Regions from separate parts of the Homo sapiens genome. Here region 1 is linked to region 2. The links come from fine-mapping of genetic effects on gene expression. A gene starts in region 2. The other region holds a variant in brackets. All regions are shown on one strand. Distances are between the middles of the regions. Region 1 overlaps LOC105376126 (a long non-coding RNA gene). Region 2 holds the start of GAS1 (growth arrest specific 1).

Region 1 (2,807 bases), 330 kb after region 2:
ATTTATGATCATTTTATCTCAGCAGGAATCCAGAACAAACTAGCCTTCATCTAAAGAATTATGATTTATCTAGAACTCTTGAGTTATATTAAACTGAAGCACTACCCCCATCCAAGTTCCTAATCAATTCAAATTGCTTAAATGTTTACATATTTTCAATTCCTTTTTTATAAACTCAGCTTAACCACTTCCTAAGACATTGCCACTTTTTGTCACATGTAGTTCTTTGAAACCAAAGAAGTAGCAACTAAAGATAAAATCGTCAATGGACAAAAATCACCGATACCCACAGTCAGCAAGGTCTCAATGCAAATTTGTTGGCTGCTTAAAAGGACCAGAAGCACTAGACAAAAGCATACACTCCCAATATGAGTTTTCAAGGTTTTGTTATCTGATATTTTATATGGTCAGCCAGATCAACAGTGGTCCTTGTTCACATAGAGTATCTCAGATGACAGATGGATATAAATTCATCCCCATTCATGCTAAGATCTAAATTCTATACATGCAGATAAAAGAAAGATATCTTGGAAGAAATTTTAACCTGATGTGAAATATAGCACTTATTAACCATCATTCTAATCATCTCTAGTAGATATTTAGACAGCATTTAGCAATTTGCAATAGGAGTTCAGAAATTATCTTGTTTGAACTCAAATGCAAATCAGTGGGAGCAAAATGATGAGAACTTATGAATGCAAAGAAGGAAACAACAGACCCTGTAATTAGTCAATTAGTTGACTAATTACGGAAGTTTTCATCGCTAGGAAGTACCTAAGTCATCGGAGATTATTTTCATTTCTAATCAACCTTCAAGTGACACTGAAGTTCCTAATACATTGTTTATTTATTTATTTTAAACTGAGACAGAGTCTCGCTCTGTTTCCAGGGCTGGAGTGCAATGTCCAATGACCCTCCTTGAAGGTGGAGGGTGGGAGGAGGGAGAGGAGCAGGAAAGATAACTATTGGGTACTGGGCTTAATTCTTCGGTGATGAAATAATCTGTATATCAGACCCTCATTATATGAGTTTACCTATGTAACAAACCTTTC[A/C]ATGTACCCCAAAACCTAAAATAAAAGTTAAAAACAAACAAAAAAGAAATGGTACAACCATTGTGGAAAACAGTACGGTGGTTTCTCATACGGTTAAAAATTGAGTTGCCATATGATATGGAAGTGCTACTTCTGGGTATATCCCCAAAAGAATAGAAAGCAGGGCCTCAAAGAGATATCTGTACACCCACGTTCATGGCAGCATTCTTCGCAATAGCCGAAACATGGAAGCAATCCAAGCGTGCACTGACAGATGAATAGATAAGCAAAATGCAGTGTAGATATACCACAATGGAATATTGTATTAACCAGTCTTAAAAGGAAGGAAATTCTGACACAGCTTATAGCATAGATGAACCTAAATGAAAAGAACCAGTCACAGAAAGCAAATCCAGTATGCTTCCATTTATACCTGGTACCTAGAAGAGTTAAAATCAGAGAGGCAGAAAGGAGAATGGCGGTCGCTAGGGGCTTGAAGCAGGGACAAATGGGGAGTTACTATTTCATGAGTGTGGAGTTTCTGTTTTACACGATGAAAAGTGTCCTGAAGATGGATGGAGGTAATGGATGCACAACTTGATGAATGTGTTTAATACCACTGGATTCTACACTTAAAAATGGTTAGGAGGGCCAATTTTATGTTATATGTATTCTTCCACAATAAAAAAAATAACAAATTAAAGAAAAAGCAGAGAGGCAGAGTTGACTAACTACAGGAGTTTTCATAGCTGGGAAGTACCTAAGTCATCAGAAATGATTTTCATTTCTAATCAACCTTCAAGTGACACTGAAGTTCCTAATACTTTATTTATTTATTTGTTTGTTTGTTTGTTTGTTTTTTAATTGAGATGGAGTCTCGCTCTGTCACCCAGGCTGGAGTGCAACGCCCACTGCCCGGGTTCAAGCAATTCTCTTGCCTAAGCATCCCTAGTAGCTGGGACCACAGGCATGCGCCACCACGCCCGGCTAATTTTTTTGTATTTTTAGTAGAGATGGGGTTTTGCCAGGCTGGTCTCAAACTCCTGACCTCAGGTGATCCACCCCCCTCGGCCTCCCAATGTGCTGGGATGAGCCACTGCTCCTGGCCTGAAGTTCCTAATACTTTAAATTACTCTTCCCCTACTGATGATCTGTAAATAAGGTATTTTAAAAGAACAAAGTTCACTGTGTGAAAAAAAAATTGAGGAAATAAGCTGACTTTCCCAAGTTTACCCAGCTACAATGGTGGGGAGTGGAATCTGAAGTCAAGCGTGTGTGTAGTACACAAATGTGCCTTTTATTTTCCAATTTTCTATTATCAGCACTGCTTTGGGAAGAAGATAGAGGAAAGAGAAGAAAAGACCCTCAGACCAATGTATACTTCTTTCACAAAACACACACCCAATGCAAATTACACAGTATAGTTAGCTGAGGGGCATAATTTGTCACACAAATAAACAAACACTATTTGGTTCCGTCTGTGGCTACTGCAGTTATAATGAAAATCTAAAAACAACTGTAATGCTTCTAACCATAAAATTATAAGGCAAGAAAATGGATTTAGATAACTGTGAGAGCCTTAATTGTATGTTTGTAAACTCACAGACAAAGCTTTTACTCAAATTTAGCTCCAGCTCAAATAGCACACCCAAATCACACTTTCTATTTAGCCCTTCTCCTGCCGTATAGATCTAAGACCCCAGGCATTAGAAAACTCTGTCTTTACAAAAGCATGTGTATTGGGCGTGGAGAGGAGGGAGGAAATATAAGCAGCTT
Region 2 (2,807 bases):
CCAAGCGGCCGCCGCCGCCGCTGCTCCTGCGCCCAGGCCCATAGGGCAGGTCCCCGCGGCCGCCCGATGCAGCAGCGCCGCTGCCCGGGCGCGGTGGGTGCGGGACGCCGTCGTCGTCGTCCAGCGGCTGCTCACCACCCGCGCCCCCGGTGCGCTGCTCGTCATCGTAGTCCTCATCGTAGTAGTCGTCCAGGCCCCCGTCCGAGCCGCTGCTGCCGGGGCCGTTGCCCAGCTCGGCGCCGAAGCACAGGCGGGCCATGTTCTCCTTGACCGACTCGCAGATGGGCCGCTCGAGGCCGTCGCACACGCAGTCGTTGAGCAGCGCCGCCTTGGGCATAGCCAGCATGTCCTCAATGACGGTGCGGCATTCGTCCGTGCAGCGCAGCCCGTTGAAGACTTTGCCGCAGTAGGTCAGGTAGCGGCTCAGCGCCAGGTTGCAGCGGCTGTCGCGGTCGCAGCGCCGCCGGGCCTCGGTGCAGCCCATGACCCCGCCCGCGCCGGGGCCGCCCGCGCCGCCGCCGCTCGTCCGGGGCAGGCACGGCTCAATGGCGCGCTTGGTGGACTTGCAGTTCTCGTCCTGCGCGCAGTCACAGTCCTCCAGGGCGGGCCCGCGGCGCGTGTGGTTGAGCTGAATGAGGGCCGAGATGCAGTGACTCGGGCAGCGCCAGCGCGACGAGAAAGAGGCGGCCGAGGCCGGGAAAGCGGCGGCGGCGGCCCCGGGCGCGTCGCCCCCGCCGTGCTGCGCCAGCACCGGCGCGCACGCCTCGGCGTACTGGTTGTAGGCGTAGCTGCACTCCGGCTCCCCCTGGCACTGCAGCAGCGCCTGCCAGCAGATGAGGCGGCGGCCGTGCGCCAGCCCCGATCCCCGCGGCGCCGAGCCCAGCAGCTGCAGCAGCGCCATCAGGCACAGCCAGGCGCCCGGCACTGTCCCCCCGCGGGCCTCGCCGCCGCCGCCCAGCAGCGCGGCCACCATCGCGGGCAGCGGCGGCCGCCGGGAGAGGAGGGGAAAGGAGACGAGGCGCGGGGAGCGGCGGACGCGGAGCCGGTGGAAAAGTTTGTCCAAGTCCTGCCCACTTCTTGCATGAGTGTCTTCATAAATCCATGCGCGCCGCTGGCTGATGCCCCGCTGGTGGCAGAAGGTCCCCTTTCGCTCTGGCTGCGGTGGCTTCCTGGAAATGAACAGCTGTCGAGATCTGGTCCCGCTCTCCCACCCGAGAGCCCTCCGCTCGGCCCCCGGTGGTGGCGGGAGAGGCTCACTGTCGCCCCGGGGGGGTGCGGGCCGCGGGGCCGTGGCGGGGCTGCAGGACCGCGCGGCGCGGCGGGTGCATTTTGCTCCGCGCCTGCAGATCCGTTGTGCGGCCGGCTGTCCCCGTGCCGGCTGCTCGCGCTGCGGCCGCGGCGGCTCCTTCCTCCTGGGCTCAGTGCCTCGCCGCCGCCACCGCCGCCGCGGTCTCTCGCATCGCGCCGCTTCCTGGCCCGGCGTCCGCGCGCTGCCCGCCTTCCCGCGGCCCGGCCGCCCCGCGTCCCCTCCCCCTCCGCCCGCGGCAACCCCGGCCTCCGCAGAGCTCCGGGGAGCTCTTTCCGGGAAGCGCGGGGAGAACAAGAAAGTCGGCGCTGCCGGAGAGCGGCTCCCTGGCTTCACTCGGCGGCAGCTTCTCGGGTGACCAAGAGCCCGGGGAGCGGATCCGCTGAGCCCGGCTGCAGACTCGTTAGCAGCGAGGCTTTAAATACAAAAGTGGGCCGGGAGCCCCCGCGTGGTGCCGCGGTGCCCCCTCATTATGCATGCATGGAAAAGCAAACAAACAAAAACATTAGCAACGCTCCTCCGGCTCGCCGAGCCCCGGCCCCGCGCGCTCCGAGCCTGCCCGCTTTCTCCTTTCTCCACTCTCTTTCGCCCTTTGCTCGGCCCCCTTTCCCGGCTTTTCGAGATGCTATTGGTCCTGCCTGTTGTTGTTGAAAGTTTTTTTTTTTTTTTTTACGAGCCGCTGGAGTGGGGTTGCGGAGTGGGGGAGGGCGGGAGGGTGGTGGGCAGCTCACATTCAGGCATTCAGGGCTTGAAAGGAACGGCTTAGGGAGCCTGACGGAGGCCCGGAGCTCCTCCTACTCTTAAGGAGGCTCGGATATGCAGCCCCAGCTCGCGCACAGAACCAGCGGGCAGGGCTTAGGGGCAGCTGTTTGCATCCGGCTCAGCCACGGGCCTTTTTTGTTTGTTTTTTTTTTCTTTTTTTTTTTTTTTGTAGTTTTATTAATTCTCGCTGGCCCCCATCTGTGCTTTCGACTGGATTCAGAACTCAGTTTATCTTCCAGGCTCCCTGTCTTTGGGTCTTGATCACCACAGAGGGGAAGGGGAGAATCCAGAGATAAAATGTGAGACTGAAACTGTTTTAAAGAAGCATACAAGAAAGAAGCACACACTTTATTAGGGAGATGTTGATGAGATGCTTACAACCCGCCCGCCACCCCCCAGCCCCAGCTAGGCCATCTGGCAGGTACCGCCCGTGCGCCAGGCATCGTTTTCAAATTGCAAGACCGAAATCCAATCAACCGAAATAATTTCTTAGGAAGATAAGCTTGCAACACGTGCAATAATGAAAAAATTTAACTAGCATTAAAAATATTCAGGAATGTCGAGCAATTACCACCTGGCCGCAGTCACAGGACAGAAGACGGAATAAATGGGCACGCACCAAAGGTTTATATTAAAGTGTAAGTTTCAGCCCCTCAGTATATTTAAGGGAGGCTGCTCTGCAGAGGAAACCTCTGCCTTCTCGGCGAGGGAGTTTCCGAGCTACCTTAACTGGGGCGCA

The links. PIP is the estimated chance that this variant, and not a neighbour inherited with it, causes the effect.
Region 1: its variant is fine-mapped to the expression of GAS1 in whole blood (INTERVAL, PIP above 0.99).

What each region holds. Positions count from the first base shown.
Region 1 is chr9:87,272,047-87,274,853 of GRCh38, forward strand. All of the region lies in intron 7 of LOC105376126 (a long non-coding RNA gene), which reads right to left. Among named protein-coding and RNA genes, the nearest start is that of LINC02872, 120 kb to the left of the region's middle. The variant A/C (reference allele first, on the strand shown) is at 1,053.
Region 2 is chr9:86,945,807-86,948,613 of GRCh38, forward strand. GAS1 (growth arrest specific 1) reads right to left here and starts at 1,700. Exons shown (of 1, transcript NM_002048.3): 1 at 1-1,700. The coding sequence starts at 973. RefSeq lists silencers at 691-760, 831-910.